3 linked regions of the Homo sapiens genome follow. The protein of the gene in region 1 interacts with the protein of each later gene in a biochemical or structural test. Each region holds a gene or a part of one and is shown in the gene's direction. Other genes may lie near its edges.

Region 1 (7,030 bases):
CTCTCTGGAGAACCCTGACTCTCATGATGGATGTCCCTCACGGGGTCCTTTTCCGGAAGACACCACCTATGTTCTTTCCTGTCTATGCTTGGAACTTGGGTGCAAACCTAGGCCGGATCTGGGGGACTCCCTCTGTGCTCCCTGGCCCTTCCTGGGATCTCCTGATTTTTGTTCTGTGGCTTTGGGTTCCTTACATCAGAGTCCAGCACAGTCAGTTAGAAATGCGTGTTGCCTTGCAAGCGGATACTAGTGCCTGTACACCTACAGCATGGATCTGTGAAAGTAACAGGAATAGTCACAACCACTATTTCATCCAGCGCTCGCCAGGGCCCAGGGTGTGACCTTCATGCAGTAATATAACTCATTTCATCTTCACGGCTACCCTGCGCAGTGGAGACTCTCTTTGTCCCTGGTTTATAGGTGAGGAAACCAAGGCCCAGAGGGTAGCTCACTCCACTGAGGTTGCACAGCCAGGAGGTGGCAGCTTTGTCCCAGAGTCAGGCCATAAGCAGGGCAGGCGCAGCGGGTCCGAGTTTCTCGGCACAGCACTCACCCTTAGCTCAGGCAGTGCACCTTGGTGGTCTCTCTGACTTATTATACAGAGAATGCTGGGTATGACTTGCCAAACTCATTCACCAGAAACTAACCCACTAGGGTAAAAACCCTTATGTCAGGCTTCAGGCTGTCACTAGCAGCGGCATTTCCTGCCCTGGAAACCTGACTTCCCCCAGCTGCCTGCATGCCTCAGGCAGGCACGGCTCCCTTCTGGGCTGCTGCTCATTGTCTGCATGTTGGAGATATTCAGAATGCCCTGTTACACCTTGTACTGTGGGTCCACTCCATGTGGGATCTTGATGCTGCTCTATAATCCCTCACCCTTAGTTTTAAAACCCAAGCAGTTCTGAAGAACAGTTGTTCTGGTAAGTTTGGGCAGCTCGTTCAGTGGCAAAACCTGACCTGAACTACTAAGAAGCTGCTGATGGTCTTGATTACTCTCCAGTGGCATGTCTGGAGGTTTTGCTGCAGAAATGGCCGTGTATGTGCTTGTGATTACTAGGTACTGCCTTGGACCTGCTGGGGGTGTCCTATGATAGAGCATGTACACAAAATCATGTGGGTTTTTTTGTATTGTTTTGTTTTGGTTTTTTTTTGAGACAGAATCTCACTGTGTTACCCAGGCTGGAGTGTGATGGCACAATCATGACTCACTGCAGCCTTACCTGGGCTCAAGCAATCCTCCCACCTCAGCCCCCCAAAGTAGCTGGGACTACAGGCATGCACCACCATACCTGGCTAGCTTTTTGTTGTTGTTGTTATTTTTTTCTAGAGATAGGGACTCACTATGTTGTCCAGGCTGGTCTTGAACTCCTGAGCTCAAGTGATCCTCCCACCTCAGCCTCCCACAGTGGTGGGATTATAGGTGTGAGCCACCACACCCGGCCATCTACCAAATCACCTTACTAAAATCCAAAAAATTCCCAATCCCCAAATACACGCAGCCCCCAGGGCTTCTTCGGGGATTGTGAACCTGTGTTACCATTTCACCAGCTCCAGACATCATTACCCATGAGTACTCGCTGACGAAGATAATGCTTTTAGAAACAACTTGTTTACTTAGCACTGTGGATTCACCTGCAGTTGTAAGAAGTAATGCAGAAATCCCAGTTTTCCCTAAAGGTATATCTGGCATAACTACATAAATATCACAGTCAGAATACTGACCTTGATACAATCCAACTGCCACTTTAAAAAAAAAGTTCAGTGTGAAGTTCTGACCCGGTGGGCCTTCAGGAGCTGAGTCCCTTCTGGTCTGGACTGAATGACCTTCCTCAGGAGCAGGAGCCCAGCAGGGCATCTTCACTGTCCCAGCTAGACCTTGCGTGTCGCAGCAGCTACAGTAGCAGCAGGCCTTGGGATGAGCACTTGCCTGCTGCTGCCTGGCATTAAGTTCTCACGACAATCCTCCAGGGGGTGCTGGCACCACCCCTACTTTCTAGAAACTGAGGGAGGCTTGAGATGTGAGGCCGCCTGTCCTGGCAGGCCTGGATTCAGACCCAGGAGGCCTAGTCCCAGAGCCCAGGCTCATAACCACTGCCCCACGCTGCCTCCCTGGAGGGCATGCAGTGTGCCCCAGGGACGAGAGGCCCAGGCAGGGAGGGGAGGTGGTGGAAGGGGAGCCCATCCCAGCGTGCATAGCGGAAATCAGGAGCCTGGGCTTTGGCGCAGTTTCGCCTGGGAGAGAAGGGAATCCTGGCTTCCTGGGTGGGTGACTTCACCTCCCCGGGCCTTGGTTTTCTTGTCTGTCAGATGAGGATTGTGAAAACACTGCCATGTAGAGGTGCATGGAGGATAAATGAGCAAGTGAATTGCTTACACAATATTAGGCACATAGTAAGTGCTCTAGAAGTGAGCTGTGTATTATTATTGTTGCCGCTGCCACTGTTGGTATTCCCACTCCCTTTCTCCTCCCTGCGCTGTCATTGTTTGCCTTCATCTGCCTTCCCAGCCCGCCCACCCCTGGAGAACAGGAGACTGGCGGGGAGGAAATGCTCAGTCACTCATTCATTTCTTTGGAGAAAGGGGGGAAGGGAAATTCATTGACTGCTGCACGCACAGCTATGGCTGAGCCTCAGCCCTGCCCTCACAGGGCCACCTTCCAGCGGGGTGGACAGACCGGTTCCGAACCAGCAGGGCTCACGGCTGGAACAAGGGAGCCCAGGGGCCTTTGGGAGCCCAGAGGGGGTGCCTGACCCAGCCTCTGGGGCTTCCTAGAGGAGGGATCAGTGGGGCTGAGACCTGGAGGAGGAGCTGGAGGTGCAAATGAGGTGCTCTGGGCAGAGGCAGCCTGCATAAAGGCCTGGAGCCAGCATGCCGGGGACATGAGTGGTCTGGCTGGGAGGTATAGAGGGGTGGGAGGAGCCGCATGGGCCAGGCCACATGCTGGTTTGGATGCCAGCCGGGTGTGGGCACATAACCACTCCTCATTGGGAAGGATGCCAGGGGCTGCCTGGCACTGTCTTCCTCCCCTGCCTTACACCCACCCACAGCCCAGGTGGAGCTGCCTGGCAGGGTGCCCTAGGCCTGCCCAGACAGGGAGGAGGCCGTGGCCTGCTGGGCCTGGGCTCTTCTCACCCCGCTTGGCGCACACACCTGTTTCCAGCATGGATGAGCCTCACCCCCTGCTTCTGTCACACCAACCTGCAGGGGTCAGTGGGTGTCTCTGTGGAGGTTTCTGAGTCACGCTGCCAGGCTTTCCACCAGAGGCCACCCCTGCTCCTTGAGGGCCGGCCCTGGGACCTCCCAGTCTGTCCTCTGGCACAGGAGATACGGGGGTCTGCTCCTGGGGAGGCTAAGGATGGTGGGCAGGTCAGACGGGGGTCTACGTGACTAAACAGGTGAAGTCACTTGCCCAAAGTCACATGGCAAGTAAGTAGCAGAGCCAGGATCTGAATCCAGCCCCCAAATCCAGTCTGCTTTTCAGGTTAGAAGATCAGAGTTTGCAGGAATCGGGGTAAATAAGGTTGCGGGGATAGGGCTCCTTTCACTGGGAACTTGCTATGTCCCAAAGCTGAACGCCCCATGCCTATTGTGTATGATCTGGTCATCAGCGCAGCAGCCCCAGAAGGGGGACCGTGAAGAGCAGTGGGCGCCCACGTGGAGTTTCCTTTCACCTGGCACCACTGTGCAGGGTTCACAAGCATTCACCCATGCAGCTCTCCCAGTGGCCCTCTTGAGGGAGATATATATGGTTCTCAGTCCCACCTCAGAGAGAAACTGAGCCACAGAGAGGCAGACTCACCTGCCTGAGGTCACCCAGCTCATGACTTGCAGAGCTGGGATTTGAACCCGGTCTCAGGGATCTGTGACCCTCAGTTCCTCTCTTCAGTGGACAAAACAGGGAAATCTTTTGTCCTGGGCCTCCCCAGAGTGTGAGGGAGGGAAGTAACAGCACTCGGTGCTGCTGCCCACCTGCCCCTGCTGCATGCCGGGCCCCCTGTGTTACTTATTCCTTCCCACAGCCCTGGCAGGGGAGCCCTGTGTCACCTCCCTGTTAGAGATTAGGTAACCTGGGCTTGGGGAGTCCATGTCGTCCAGCAAGTCATTGGCCCTTTGTGTGAGTCTGGGCTGTTCTGTGACCGTAGACCCAGCCGGGCCCTTCCTCTCATGCTCCGCCACCTTGGTAGTCACGATAGTAGCATCAGGACCTGTGCTTGGGATGCTGCTCACCCCACAGGGATTCTCACAGGGCACCTGAAGCTGAGCCCGCAGTCCTCAGACAGGCAGTTGTTTGATTTTAGCGCGCTCATAGCTAAGATTGATGAAGTGCACCCATGCGGGCAGCTTTGCTGTGCCCAGTTTTGGGGTGCAGAAACCAAGGCTCGGCAGTTAAATACGTCTAGGGTTGCACCATCAGCACCTGGCGCCCAGGCGGTCTGACTTCCACTTTCATGGAACCCAGGGCTGGGCAGCCTGGGGGCAACCGCTGTGCCCCCACCTCAGCCTCAGTGTGCACGCCCCTTCCCTCCCACCCAGGTGGTCAAGGTGAAGCCCCATGACAAGGATGCCAAAATGAAATACCAGGAGTGCAACAAGATCGTGAAGCAGAAGGCCTTTGAGCGGGCCATCGCGGGCGACGAGCACAAGCGCTCCGTGGTGGACTCGCTGGACATCGAGAGCATGAGTGAGTCAGGCCTGGATGCTCCACGCTCCAGCCCAGAACATTCCACACGGGCCTTCTCCATTCCCTGGGGGTGGGGTTGGGCTCAGGGGTGGCCCCTTGTTCTGTCCCCAGGCTGGTGTCTGTCGCTCCTCTGCCTGTGTTCCAGGGCGCTCCATCCACAGCCCAAAGCTGGGCCTCACGCTTCCCAGTGAGCGAGATTGGAGAGCCATGGTCCCCCTGCCATTTCACGGGCCCTTCCTCCGGGTAGTAGCACAGTCCCCACAGGCTGTGTCTGATTCACCTCTAGGTGCTGAGAAGATCCAAGGGATTGTTGTGGATCATCCCACAGATGATTATTGAGCATCTCCTATGTGCCCGGCACTGTCCTAGGCACTAGGGGTACAGCTATGAACAAAACCCTTCCTGTCCACATGGAGCCGATATTCTAGGAGGGAGATAAGATGATGAATAAGTCATGAAATGAATAGTGCTAAGTGCCATAAAACTGAATAGAGTAAAGGGGGGTGGGTGAAGGAAGACAGGGAGGTCAGGAAGAGGCCTCTGGGCCAGACCTGACCCAGGAGGGGACTCTTCACTCACTCTGTCCCGCTCTCGACCTGTGTGTCCACACCCAAGTTTTCCCCATCCCTGGGAGCGAGACCCCCTTCTCCCTCATAGTGGCTGTGGTCACTGACTCTCGTGTCCCGTTGTTCACACCCTAGCCATTGAGGATGAGTACAGCGGACCCAAGCTTGAAGACGGCAAAGTGACAATCAGTTTCATGAAGGAGCTCATGCAGTGGTACAAGGACCAGAAGAAACTGCACCGGAAATGTGCCTACCAGGTAATGCATCTGTCAGGTACTGGGCACCCGGGAACCCTGGGATGGCATCACAGCACTGCCAGCCGCGGGCACTGAGCAAAACGACAGGAGAAGGGCGGCCATGACAGCCAACACCAAACAGGAGTCGTGTGCCGGACACTGTGCCGAGGGCTTACCACATGATCTCATCTCGTCCCACAGCAGTTTGGGGAGGTGGCAGGCAGTGCCATTTGACAGATGCAGGGACAAAGGGCCAGAGAGGTCAGGTGACTGGCCCAGGGTGAAAGGTGAGGAAGCAGTAGAGTCTGTTGCTTTGAGTTCTCATCCCAGGCTCTTGGGCGTCTGTGGCTGCTGGTTGTTGCAGGTTGTTTGGGACCTGCTGGTTGCTCCTAGTCCTGAGACCACCCCCTCCCCGACCTAGGAGGGCAGCTGGCCACAGGGTGTTAACTGGTTGAGTGAGACTCAGGCTCTGGTATCCCATCTGGACAAGGCCCCCTGCCCTGACCTCTCAGGGCTACAGGGACCTTACCATAGTTTTGGGGAACTGCTGAGATCCACCACCTCCTGGGTTGGTTATGAGGATGCGGGACTTCTTGTGAGTCAGGTTGACAGGCAGGTGACTCTTACAGGAGTGTGCAGGCAATATGGGAAGCCGCCATTTGATAGGTCCTAGAGAGCCAAGTGGCCTGGGTTCAAATCTCTACCTTCCCACATACTAGCTGTGTGCCTGTGGGCAGATGGCTTCACCTCTCTGTGCCTTGATTTCCTCCTCTGTGCAGTGGAGATAATCATACTGTCTCCACCAAGGGCTGTTGTAAGGAGTAACTGCGTGTAATCCACATCAGTGCTTCGAATAGTGCCTAGCACATGGTTAGTGCTCTGTATGGGTTAGCTGTTGATCATGTTGTTAAAGGTGAGACAGGAGGAGGAATGTCCACATTCCTGGTTGTTTTTAATTGAAGTATAATTAATGCACAATAAAATACACAAATCTGAAGTGTCCTGTTAGATGAGTTTTTAGAGTTTTATGTGCCCACTGCCCAAACAAGTTACAGAACATTTCCATCAACCAGAAAGCTCCCTTTGACCCCTTTCTAGTCAGCCCTCACTCCCATCCCAGGGGCAACCACTGATCTGATTTTTCACCACTGTAAATTAATTCTGCCTGGTTTTGAATTTCATTTCAATGTCATATGGGCTTACAGCGTTTAGTGTCTCTTCTTTCATGTGGCACAATGTGTGTGGGATTCATACATGGATGTTGTGTATATCGGTAGCTCAAGTCCTCCATTGTCTGAACAGCCCATGACTTGTTTATGCAGTCTTCTTTTGAGAGACATTTGGGTTATTTCTACTTTGTAGCTTTTATAAGTATAAGCTGCTATGAACTTCTTGGACAAGTCTTTTTGTGAACATGTTTTCATTGTTCATGTTGAATTTCTCTATTGATTGTCTTTTGTTTCATTGATTTTTCATTCATTATTCTCTATGCATGCTTGAGGTTTAATTTGCTTTCTTCTGGCTTCTGAAGATGGACATTAATGCTG
Region 2 (5,623 bases), on another chromosome or scaffold:
CTTTTAGTGTTCATGGAGAATTAGAGTGGGGGCACACCTTATCTCAGGAGAGCAGAGCAAATCATGAGCATCGAGCTCTCTGATTCTTAGCTCAGGTCCACGTCACCTTCTTTGCTTACTGTCTTTTTGGATACAGGGTCCTCTGTCAGGGCATGGGCTGGGGTCTCAGGGTCACAGAGAGGGTCTGGTGACTTGAGTCTGGGGGCTAACAAGATGTCCTGCCCACAGGTGGTACAACTGAAGGCTGTGTTCCCACACGGTGGAGGCTTTGTGCTGGCCTTTGAGTTCATGCTGTCGGATCTGGCCGAGGTGGTGCGCCATGCCCAGAGGCCACTAGCCCAGGCACAGGTCAAGAGCTACCTGCAGATGCTGCTCAAGGGTGTCGCCTTCTGCCATGCCAACAACATTGTACATCGGGTCAGTCTCAGCATAGGCCGGGCATGGGGTCTGGGGAGCTGACTTGGCTTGGGGATGGGGCTAGCCCTTGTAAAAGGTGTGATAAGAAGTTGGGACAGAGCTGGTCAAGGCCTCCAGGTAAGTGGCCAGGGCATGGCCCTGGAGGAGGTGGGGACCGGGGCTGACCTGAGTGGTTAGACTGCCAAGCCCGCTTGTCCCAAGGTCCTATGGGGGATTTGGAGGGACTGATGCTTCTTTTGGTACTCCCAGGACCTGAAACCTGCCAACCTGCTCATCAGCGCCTCAGGCCAGCTCAAGATAGCGGACTTTGGCCTGGCTCGAGTCTTTTCCCCAGACGGCAGCCGCCTCTACACACACCAGGTGGCCACCAGGTAGGGAGGGCCAGATCCCTTCCAGTCTTCTCCATGGGGAAGAGATGCTTCTGGGCCTTTTCTCCAGACATTGCTTGTGGGGCTGGGGTCACCTCCCCAGGCATCCTTTTCTCAGCCCAGTGCCTGCCAGCCCTCTTCCTCGCAGGTGGTACCGAGCCCCCGAGCTCCTGTATGGTGCCCGCCAGTATGACCAGGGCGTCGATCTGTGGTGAGACCCCTGTGGGTGGTCAAAGGGTAACATGGCTCATGGATTTCTGCTAGGCTCTGAGGTCTCTGAGCTGTTTGGTGGTCTTTTCCCTGGTGGGAGTTTAGGCTTCCTTAAGGGTGTCTTCCCTGGTTGGGGTATTCTGAGCACTTTGGGGTTGGGGTTCCTCACTATGATGTTTTCGAGCTGGGTAGGGGCCAGGTGGGATGAGAATGGTGGTCCCAGGTGGGAAGCTTTCTGGGCTAGATGGGGAGGTGGTCTGAGCCGATATGTGCTGGAGTTAGATCCTAGGATATGGCATCTCTGAGCTGGTCAGAGGCCTGTGTCCTTGGACATGAAAGCTCTGAGCTTGTTTTGCAGCAAGAAGATAGTTGGCAGTGCCCATGGGTCTGAGATTTGGGGCAGGTTTGCAGGTCTGCCCCAGAAGTGTCCTAGAGCAGGAGTCTCCGAGAAGTCTTGGAACAGCTGGGGCTTTGCTCTGGGTTCTAGGGTTGAGGGCTTTGAGGGTTCAGGGACTGGGCCTCTGGACGTGAGGCTCCAGGGCTGGCTTGTGGGGCCTTGCCCTGGAGTGCAGTGTTAGAGCTGCTCTGTGGGTGGGTCTGTGGTCCATGGTGGGAGATCTCTGACCTGCTTGGGGCTCTGTGTCCACAGGTCTGTGGGCTGCATCATGGGGGAGCTGTTGAATGGGTCCCCCCTTTTCCCGGGCAAGAACGATATTGAACAGCTTTGCTATGTGCTTCGCATCTTGGGCACCCCAAACCCTCAAGTCTGGCCGGTTTGTAGGGGCCCTTGGTGAGGTGGGTGTGGGGCAGGTTTACTCCACTCCCAACAGCAAGTAACCACTCCCTCCCCTGAACCTTCTCTCTCCTGGCCCCAACCCCCCTTGATGGACAGGGACCACTGTCCTGGCCCAACTCAGGGCTTCCTCCTTCCTGCTGTCATTTGGGTTGGGGTAGATCCTGTCCTTTGTCCCTTTTCACCCCAGTACACACATGTGCAGTGTCTCAGCAAGCTGTGCACAGAGTCGTCATCTGAGAGGGCAAGGGGATGGATGAAGGAATACAGGGGTGGGTGAGTGAATGAATGATGGGTCAGGGAGACACATGGATGGGAGAGCACCCCCCATGTGAGTGTGTGTTAGGGGCTGAGAGTTGACAGCAGAGAGCATGGCAAGGGTCGGGAACTACTCTCATTGTACCCTGTTCCTTCTCCCTGGCCCAGGAGCTCACTGAGCTGCCGGACTACAACAAGATCTCCTTTAAGGAGCAGGTGCCCATGCCCCTGGAGGAGGTGCTGCCTGACGTCTCTCCCCAGGCATTGGATCTGCTGGGTCAATTCCTTCTCTACCCTCCTCACCAGCGCATCGCAGCTTCCAAGGTAGGGGGAGAGGCTGTAGTCTCTGCTCCTTCAGCTCCCCTCCCCATCACCCTGGTACTCTGTACTTGGTAGCCATGTGACCCCATCACATCAGCGACCCTCAGAACCTGTGATTGGCATGGACCAGCACCAGACATCTGGAACCCAGGGGACAGGGGCCTTGGAGCAGGTGTGCCTCTCATGAGTAGACCCCACTGGACATCCCCAGACTTCCCCTGAGGGTGGCCCATACGAGGGGCATGCCCAACTCTCAGGAGAGCGCGTGTCCGGGAGTGCAGGTTTCTGGGCTGCCCCTGACCCTGTGGCAGATACAGTAAGAGAGTCACTGGGGACTCATTCCTTTATTCCATTAGCAAGTATTTTCTGCACATCTGGCACATGCAGGGATTGTCCTGGGCCCTGCACAGATGGTAAACAATCAGTCCTACCTCCGCGGGGCACTCCTGGTGGTGAGGTAGCTCCAGGTCCAAAAGGTCACAAGAGGTCATGTTCTCCAGCTGTGGGAGCCCCAGGAGAGAGGCAAGGCCGACTTTGGGGTCAAGCAAAGCTTCCTGGTGGAGGGCAGGTTTAAGCATGAGATGTTTGAGGAGGTGTTCGCTGAAGAGAGAAATGGTGGGCAGAGGCCTGGAAGAGAGGACCCAGGAAGGCTGGTTATGGCTGGTAGGCCTGGGAGGACGATGACCACAGGAGCATGGGCTGACAGGTGTCAGGGTGTCTCTCAGGGGTCCCTGTCCCCTCCCTGCACTCAGCACCAGCCGCGTGTGTTTACATACGCCCTCTTGGTCTCCACTGTCAGCAGCTCCTGTGGGCTCTGTGTCCACAGTGTACCCAAGCCGTGTGACCCTTATCTCTTGGGTTGCCTCCCAGAATCTGGGTCTCCCCTCATCCCATTTAATCTCTTCTCCACCTGGCAGACAGAGTAACTTTATCCAAGTAGAACAGGACACATTCCTTCTCTGCCAGGGCCCTCCTGTGGCTCCATCTCAGAGGAAAAGCCAGGGTCCTTTTTGTGACCCACAGATGTCGTATGCTTGGGTGCCATCACCTCATGACGCTGCCTGCTGTTGTGCCCTGTGCTCACTCCTCTCCAGCCCCAGGGGTCAGTACACTTTTGTCCCTGGCCTGGAGCCTCATGTCCCACTTGCTTATGTCTCAAGTCTTGGCTTAAATGTCACTTCTCAGATGGCCTTCCCTCATGACTCTTCAGATCTGCAACCTCTCTCCAGGATTCCTCATTCCTCTGTCTTGCTTTCTCTCTTCCACTGCACTAATCATTATCTGACATACTGTGTATTTTACTTCATCTTGTTTATTACCCCCCACCCTCACTTATGTCAGAAAAACAGAGCTTTTGTCTGTTTTATTAACGGCTATGTTCCCAGCTTCTGGAATAGTGCTTCAGACATAGTAGACACTCAGAAAACACCCAGACACACTGAGTCAGCTGAATGCATAGATGAAGGAACATCTGCTTGAGGCTGGGGACAGGGAGGTGACTAGTTTCCTTCTGCTGTTCCTTACTTGCCACCCTCAGGCTCTCCTCCATCAGTACTTCTTCACAGCTCCCCTGCCTGCCCATCCATCTGAGCTGCCGATTCCTCAGCGTCTAGGGGGACCTGCCCCCAAGGCCCATCCAGGGCCCCCCCACATCCATGACTTCCACGTGGACCGGCCTCTTGAGGAGTCGCTGTTGAACCCAGAGCTGATTCGGCCCTTCATCCTGGAGGGGTGAGAAGTTGGCCCTGGTCCCGTCTGCCTGCTCCTCAGGACCACTCAGTCCACCTGTTCCTCTGCCACCTGCCTGGCTTCACCCTCCAAGGCCTCCCCATGGCCACAGTGGGCCCACACCACACCCTGCCCCTTAGCCCTTGCGAGGGTTGGTCTCGAGGCAGAGGTCATGTTCCCAGCCAAGAGTATGAGAACATCCAGTCGAGCAGAGGAGATTCATGGCCTGTGCTCGGTGAGCCTTACCTTCTGTGTGCTACTGACGTACCCATCAGGACAGTGAGCTCTGCTGCCAGTCAAGGCCTGCATATGCAGAATGACGATGCCTGCCTTGGTGCTGCTTCCCCGAGTGCTGCCTCCTGGTCAAGGAGAAGTGCAGAGAGTAAGGTGTCCTTATGTTGGAAACTCAAGTGGAAGGAAGATTTGGTTTGGTTTTATTCTCAGAGCCATTAAACACTAGTTCAGTATGTGAGATATAGATTCTAAAAACCTCAGGTGGCTCTGCCTTATGTCTGTTCCTCCTTCATTTCTCTCAAGGGAAATGGCTAAGGTGGCATTGTCTCATGGCTCTCGTTTTTGGGGTCATGGGGAGGGTAGCACCAGGCATAGCCACTTTTGCCCTGAGGGACTCCTGTGTACTTCACATCACTGAGCACTCATTTAGAAGTGAGGGAGACAGAAGTCTAGGCCCAGGGATGGCTCCAGTTGGGGATCCAGCAGGAGACCCTCTGCACATGAGGCTGGTTTACCAACATCTACTCCCTCAGGATGAGCGTGAGCCAGAAGCAGCTGTGTATTTAAGGAAACAAGCGTTCCTGGAATTAATTTATAAATTTAATAAATCCCAATATAATCCCAGCTAGTGCTTTTTCCTTATTATAATTTGATAAGGTGATTATAAAAGATACATGGAAGGAAGTGGAACCAGATGCAGAAGAGGAAATGATGGAAGGACTTACGGTATCAGATACCAATATTTAAAAGTTTGTATAATAATAAAGAGTATGATTGTGGTTCAAGGATAAAAACAGACTAGAGAAACTTATTCTTAGCCATCCTTTATTTTTATTTTATTTATTTTTTGATGGAGTCTTGCTCTGTTGCCCAGGCTGGAGTGCAGTGGCACAATCTCGGCTTACTGCAACCTCCGCCTCCTGGGTTCAAGTGATTCTCCTGCCTCAGCTTCCCGAGTAGCTGGGACTACAGGCGCGTGCCACCACACCTGGCTAATTTTTGTATTTTTACTCAAGACAGGGTTTCACCATGTTAGCCAGGATGGTCTTGATCTCCTGACCTCGTGATCTGCCTGCCCGGGCCTCTCAAAGTGCTGGGATTGTAGGCGTGAGCCACCATGCCCAGCCCCAGGCTCCCTTTATTTTTAAAATGTTTATTTTATGCTTCATGTGGATAAACTCTTCTGTGAGCACTCAGGGTGACTAACACTGCTACAGATGCTGGCCTTCAAGCACTTAGTGGAGAGAGAAAACATACTCAACCCTCGTTCTTGGCTTTCAGGAAAGTCTGATGT
Region 3 (7,030 bases), on another chromosome or scaffold:
GCCTGGTGGACACTTCAGGTGGCAATTTAGTCTGTCTGCATTAGGCCAGGCTTCTCTTCTAGCTCTGTGACGGGGCTGGCTCTCAGGGAAGATCCCCTGGGGGAGGTAAGACCATGCTTATAAGCTCCTGCCACACATGCAGCTGTCAAAGCAACCCAGATCACCTCGGAGCAGGCGCACGGAACAGCTGAGCACACGACTTCTGCTCCTTTGCTCAGAGCAATGACTTCTGGCTTTTATTCTTTGTCCAGGTATGTACCCTCTGGTCACAGCGACCCAGGATGCTGACAGCAGCCGGAAGCTGGCTCACTTGCTGAACGCCGTGACCGATGCTTTGGTTTGGGTGATTGCCAAGAGCGGCATCTCCTCCCAGCAGCAATCCATGCGCCTGGCTAACCTCCTGATGCTCCTGTCCCACGTCAGGCATGCGAGGTACGCGCCCTAAGGAGCTGCTCTGCTTGGGCTTGGGATGGGATTATGTGCTCCACGGAGGGTGAAGTGATTTGGGAAAAGTGTCTGCAAGTTAAGGAAAATGAATGCCTGAAAGGGAATGGGGAATTTGTCAGTTCACACACCTGTAAGCAAAGATGGGCACAGAGTGGGCATGGAAGGAATGTCATGTGGTATCTTACAGGCTCTGCATGGCAGCCAGTGGTGGCTCATGGGTTTTTCAATTGCTGGGGTTTATAGCCTGTTTATGGAGTCCTAAAAGGGGCAGTTCCTCCCCTAACACGAACTGCCACCCCTGTTTACACCACCCAGGGCTGAGGCCCTGAGGCCACTTTTTGTGGAGAGGCTAAGACCCGCTCCCCTAGATGGCCCCTCGAGCTGGTGATGCGAAGAAGTGCACAAATGCTTCCCTAAGAGTTGTTCTTTCGGTGGCATCAGGAAATTAAGGATAAGACTTAAGAGAAGTGGTGGACCCAGCAGATTTAGGAAGGCAGGGCTGTAGGTAGGGCATGTTTCTGATCAGGAAACGTAATTGTGTGTGCTGATGAAGAGGGTGTGCAGTGGTGGCTACTGTTGGTACAATGATGCTCAGTGCTTGGTGTCACCCACGATGAGGGTAGCCTTGCCCTGGAGCTGGAGGAGGGGAGGGGAGGGTGGAAGGTAATTAACTGGTCACTGAGGAGGCAAGTCTAGAGGCTGTGGAGAAGGACAATATACACCTCGAGAATCTTAAGTGAGATGAAGACCTCTGCCTTTCCCCTTTAATGATTGCTCAGCACATAGCCATTTGCAGAACAGATCCTGTGTTTGTAGATTCCTTCATTGTGAATTTATCTGCTTGCTAAAATTTATTTGTAACCCCAAAATCAATATTTGTGGTGTTTTTGAGGTCATGAACAGAGTGGCAGAAATTTTGAGTTGCCCTTTATGTACAGTCCCAGCTGAGATGGAACAAGCAGCTGCTCTCATACTGTCAACAAGTGTCCTTTACTTGGTCTACTTAGTGCCATGGTTTTACATTTTTGTGCTTTTGGTGACTTCACTGTTTAAAATGCCCCCCTGGTGTGGTGCTGAAGACCTGTCTAGTGTTCCTCGGTGTGAAAAAGCTGTGATGTGCCTTATGGAGAAAGTATGTGTTAAGCTTTGCTCGGGTGTGAGTTATAGTGCTGCTGGCCATGAGTTCAATGTTAATGAGTCAATGGTATTTATCACATAAGGCATCTTTAGAAAGAAACACACATAAAACAAGGTTTTGTATTGATCAGCTGATGAAGATGTGGCCAGAGGCTTGCAGGAACCTAACCCTGTATTTCCCCTATGAGTGAGGATTCAGTGTTCACAGTGACTTTACGGAACATAATTACCGCAAACAATGAGGATTGATTGTCCTATGTGTCAGGCCATTGTAGGTGTGTGGTGGGACACAGAGGCTGACAAGACATCGTCCTTGCCCTTGAGCCTAAATTATCAGGGGGAGCTGGATGCACGAGCCATGGATAAATGGGCTGGGGGAAGAGTGGGTTTAGGGGTGGGGTAGACTGGCTCTGAGCAAAGAGAGCCGGGGAAGGCTTCGGGGTTCCTGTGGCTGCCTCGGAGGAGGGAATCTCAGCACCTTTTTGTCCCCATAGTAACAAGGGCATGGAACATCTGCTCAACATGAAGTGCAAAAATGTGGTCCCAGTGTATGACCTGCTGCTGGAGATGCTGAATGCCCACGTGCTTCGCGGGTGCAAGTCCTCCATCACGGGGTCCGAGTGCAGCCCGGCAGAGGACAGTAAAAGCAAAGAGGGCTCCCAGAACCCACAGTCTCAGTGACGCCTGGCCCTGAGGTGAACTGGCCCACAGAGGTCACAGGCTGAAGCGTGAACTCCAGTGTGTCAGGAGCCTGGGCTTCATCTTTCTGCTGTGTGGTCCCTCATTTGGTGATGGCAGGCTTGGTCATGTACCATCCTTCCCTCCACCTTCCCAACTCTCAGGAGTCGGTGTGAGGAAGCCATAGTTTCCCTTGTTAGCAGAGGGCACATTTGAATGCAGCGTTTCCACACTCAATGGCCTCATAGGATCTCAGTGTGGTCTTTCTTACTTTCCTTCTTCCTTCCTCCCCTTTGTGAAACATCTTAAAGGTTTTGGAATGAATGGTGGAAATCTGACTTGGAAGGGCTGCGAATCAGAAAGGGGAGAGGAAGTGACACGCTTACAGAAGTGGGCTAACCCTTCTTGTGTGGCACACACTACCCTTCCCTCTGAGAGTTGACCTTTGCTGTTTTCCGGACCACTCCATTGTAAGATTGAAAACCCCTGTGGCAATTGCGTACTTACCTCCCAGGCCTGTGGGGACTGATCATATCATATGATGCTTATTCTGTCAAAGGCCAGAGGGACTGTGGTTAAGCTGGGATGTGAGTCATGTTCTCTCCCTGACCTTGCTGCCAGCTGCACACAGATTTGTCCCTCTCGATTTGTATTCACAGAGCCTGCCAATAATTTGGGGTATGTGTGTATGAGCGTGTGATCATTTTCATGCAGGACTGTGGGAGATACAAATCTCGCTGCTTCTGGAGCTGCTCTTCCTTAAACCTGTTGTCCCATGGGGCCAGCGTGGGTGCTGGAGAAAGGCCGTGTTTGCAGGAATGGGGTTCTCTCCTGTGGGTGTGGGTGACAGCCACAGTGTTTCCCTGGGGCAATGTGGATGCAGTTTCCATCTTGTACAACCTCATAAGTAGCAGCCACAATTGCCCCATCAGTCACCACAAGTAGTCAGGGATACTTTGGGCTGTGGATGTGTGCAGTGTGCTGTTTTATGGATGGATGAGTAGCTATGCACCCCAGTGTGTCAGCTCTGGGGCCACACTGTATAGCCTTGATGAGTACGCCCCTTGAACAAGACCCAGTTTGTGAACTCTCCTTAAAGAGAAATATTTAGGGATAATTATTTATAGCAAGAAAGAATTCTTTTACACTTGAGAGCTCTTTTAAAAATATTTTCTTATTGGAAAATTTATATGGTGGGCAGGGTGAAAAAGAAACAGTAAAAATATTAGTTCTTATTCCAAGTGGAACATAAATAGGACATGAAGAAGGGCACCTCTGAAATGACAACTTTAACTCACCTTTTAAAAGATGTGAAATTTCCAGTTTTGGATACACGGTGAATATGTAAAATGAGTAACAGCATACTATGGAAGCCAGCAATTAAATAATCATGTTTCATTATTGCAGTAACGTTTTAAACAATTACCTTGTGATATGATATTAAATATATTTTCTTTTTGAAAATATGTTCACTTTGGGTAGCACATCCTGTATTTACTAAGTCATTAGGAAGACTGCATTCAGTGTTACCAAGACTGGTTTTTGCTAGTAAGACCTCGAATAATCCATAATTTTGATATTGGTGCAATTTTACTATAAGTTGAGCTTAGCTGTTTCAGAAATGCTTGGACAAGTACCTAGAGAACACACTGATGTCTGTGTTCTGAGGCAGTCTGAAGTTATTCTTAGAGACTCAGTTACAGCTTTAGTAAGATTTAGTACAGGCAGGATAAGCTTGGTTTCATAGGAACCAGGGAACCAGTGTTAGTGTCAGCTTCTTTCCTCCTGGTCAGCCTAGAATCCCCCACTCCCAATAGAGGGGTTTGGAAGCTGGAGAGTAGGAAGTAAGAGGCAAAGAAGGCAGCCTTCAGCAACTCATTATCTGCCAGTGAAATTCTATTAAATGTATTTTTAAAAGAGATTACCAGGTAACAAAAACATAAAAAACCAAAACAAGGCCAGATGTGGTGGCTCACGCCTGTAATCCCAGCACTTTGGGAGGCCGAGGTGGGCGAACCACTTGAGCCCATGAGTTTGACTCCAGGCTGGGCAACATGGAAACCCTGTCCTACAAAAGATACAAAAATTAGCCAGGCGTGGTGGTGCAGGCCTGTAGTTCCAGCTACCTGGGAGGCTGAGGTGGGAGGATCACCTGAGCCTGGGGAGATCAAGGCTGCAGTCCATTGCACTCCAGCCTGGGTGACAGAGGGAGACCCTGTCTCAAAAAAAAAAAAAAAAAAATTGCCACGAAATATATATATATATATATATATAATTTTTTTTTTTTGAGAGTAGATCTTAAGACAGAGATCACTTCTACTCCTGGGAGTGAACTGGCAATGGCAATCCCTTTAGAGCCTCGAGTGGGCAGTATCAGGAGCGCCGCACAGTGAGTTTCCAGCTGAGCTATTCTCACCGAATCTCGCTCTGTTCTCACAGCACCCCTCTGTCAGGCCTGTCTCATAGTGACTGCCCACCAGGACTGACTACAAAAGACTTGACCCTAAAATAGTCTTGAAGGGATTTTTCTCAAAAAATTAAGGCGGGAACACAAGACAAAGCTGTCAGCCTAGTCACAAATCTGAAGACTCAACTGCATTAAAAATAGTGCAAAATCGGCAGGAGCTGTACAGTGCGAGTCTTGGTCTGGAATACTCCCCCTGCTAACTCAGCTGGAAGGGCAACTATCTTAGATTTCAGTAAGGAAGAAAAATCAGTTACCAATACTTGGCAGAGCCATATTATATATCCATATATATTTATGTATATAAGTGGAATTGAAGCAATTCTAGAATTTTCTAGCATGTGAAAGCAGGGTTTAGTTCTTATTTACGTCTGCTAAGGGACTTTTCAAATTCAAAGTGAACCTTCTGTTTATAGGCCTATTTTGAAACAAAGTATCCTCACTTAATAAGATTTGACACCTTTTTTTTTTTTTTTTTGAGACAGGGTCTGACTCCTGTTGCTCAGGCTAGAGTGCAGTGGCGCCATCATGGCTCACTGCAGCCTCGACCTCCTGGGCTCAAGCGATCCTCCCACCACAGTGCCCCATCCCACCCCATTCCCGCCCTCGCCGAGTAGCTGGGGTGCACACCACCACTCCTGGCTAATTCTTTTAATATTTGTAGAGATGGGGTTTTACTATGCTCCCCAGGCTGGTCCTGAACTCCTGGGCTCCAGCGATCTGCCTGCCAAGGCCTCCCAAAGTGCTGAGATTACAGGCATGAGCCACTGTGCCCAGCCCCGCCACATTTTTTTTTAAGTTGCTGAAAATCTTTTAAAAAGATAAAAACACATTATTTAGTATCTAAAGATAATATCTGTGCCAGACACAGTTCTCAGTGCCTCAGACATTCACATTTAATCCTTATTATAATAACTGCTATTTCCTTATTTTCTGGTTGTGGAACTAGACACGGTCTAAGCAAACTTGCTGAAGGTCACGTGGGGAGTAGGTGATTGAGCTGAACACAGGCAGTCCAAGTCCAGTGCTGACAGTGACCATGCACTTCAAACAGTTTAAAAATTTAAAGAAAAATATTTTAAAACTGCAGAATCTATCAGGTGCAACCTGACATGCACGGCTGCTGTGATTTAAATGGGGCCCCCTTGTGATACCCCCTTACCTCCCACCACAATGTCCAGAACACCCCTACAGACACAGTAAGTTTGTAAACCTCTCACATCAAAGTTCAACTCCACCTTTCATATCTGTGTAAATTAAAGCCCACGGGGGCAAATTCACCTATTCAAGGTCATAAAACTACTCATGGCAAAGCTTGGACTGGCACGCAAGTCTTCTGCTTGCCTAGCGGGCCAGTATTGCTCCTGCCCCAGGACTTGCTTCTGTGAGAATCTGCTTTGTGAGCTGAGTCGCAGCAGAATGGAGGGGCGGTGAAGTTAGGGTTGTCTTCTGCTGTACCTTTAGATCCCATCTCCTCAGCTTAGATGGGTCTGCATGAGCCTTTACACAACAGCAGCAATGACAGATGGAAAAATAAGATGCATAATCTGTTATTCCCATTGTCCCATCTCAGGTTCATGAGCTCTAGTGGGTACTGTGATCACCTCCTGTCTGTGACTGCTTTCCCCAAACACGTGGAATATGTTCCTTGGAAGTGTACTCATGTAAAATTCACATCTTTTAGGCACTGCTGCTTCCCTGTGGAGTGTGATATACTACAGTGTGAAAACACGTGCCACTTATTCTTTATAGCTCTCAAACTTGCTGGAATTTTGGCTCCAGTGGCAGCTCTTAAGATGTGCATTGTCTGTGATGTATGATCGTAGTGCCATTTTTGTTGCTTTGGAGTCAGGGAGGTTTTTTGTTTGTTTGTTTGTTTGTTTTTTAATTCCGAGGATCCTATTCACTTGTAGGGCCAGCCACTGGTAAACTGGTGGTGGGTTTCCTCTATGGGAAGCACATAAGGAGTGGTGATACCAGCCGCGAACAGTTCCTGTTAACTGTACAATGGATGTTTTTGCATTTGTTTCCTCTGTTGGGTGTCTAAATGCCTTAACTGTTGGTCCTATACCTTTTGTCATTCAATGTGTACTTCAGAGCCTGTTGGTTGGCTATAATTTGCCATTTTCTCAGACGAATGCTTTGTATCATTACACTAATTTGTTGACTTCATTTGCAGGCTTTACATTTGGGCCTTGTAGAAATGAATGTTTGCTGCTCTGTGAAAGCAGATTTTGAGACCTGCTTTCCCTTCCTCCAGGGAGTGTTTTCCTTACTGTGTCCCTTTAATGTCTATGGCACTGT

What was found. The genes of interacting proteins can lie anywhere in the genome.
Region 2: the proteins of PPP5C (region 1) and CDK20 form a complex in vitro, tested with the Homo sapiens proteins (one study listed by BioGRID).
Region 3: the proteins of PPP5C (region 1) and ESR2 form a complex in vitro, tested with the Homo sapiens proteins (one study listed by BioGRID).

The regions. Positions count from the first base shown.
Region 1 is NC_000019.10:46,371,071-46,378,100, forward strand, and holds part of PPP5C (serine/threonine-protein phosphatase 5), read left to right. Parts: intron 1-4,533; coding exon 4,534-4,681; intron 4,682-5,382; coding exon 5,383-5,504; intron 5,505-6,416; exon of another isoform or gene 6,417-7,030. UniProt on the Homo sapiens protein: Serine/threonine-protein phosphatase that dephosphorylates a myriad of proteins involved in different signaling pathways including the kinases CSNK1E, ASK1/MAP3K5, PRKDC and RAF1, the nuclear receptors NR3C1, PPARG, ESR1 and ESR2, SMAD proteins and TAU/MAPT.
Region 2 is NC_000009.12:87,965,941-87,971,563, reverse strand, and holds the end of CDK20 (cyclin-dependent kinase 20), read left to right. Parts: intron 1-228; coding exon 229-417; intron 418-666; coding exon 667-788; intron 789-918; coding exon of another isoform or gene 919-933; coding exon 934-996; intron 997-1,644; coding exon 1,645-1,768; coding exon of another isoform or gene 1,769-1,789; exon of another isoform or gene 1,790-1,790; intron 1,791-2,214; coding exon 2,215-2,370; intron 2,371-2,696; exon of another isoform or gene 2,697-2,994; intron 2,995-3,390; coding exon of another isoform or gene 3,391-3,469; intron 3,470-3,891; exon of another isoform or gene 3,892-3,904; coding exon 3,905-4,102; 3' UTR 4,103-5,123; downstream 5,124-5,623. UniProt on the Homo sapiens protein: Required for high-level Shh responses in the developing neural tube.
Region 3 is NC_000014.9:64,228,372-64,235,401, reverse strand, and holds part of ESR2 (estrogen receptor beta), read left to right. Parts: intron 1-214; exon of another isoform or gene 215-251; coding exon 252-432; exon of another isoform or gene 433-540; intron 541-2,078; coding exon 2,079-2,265; 3' UTR 2,266-7,030.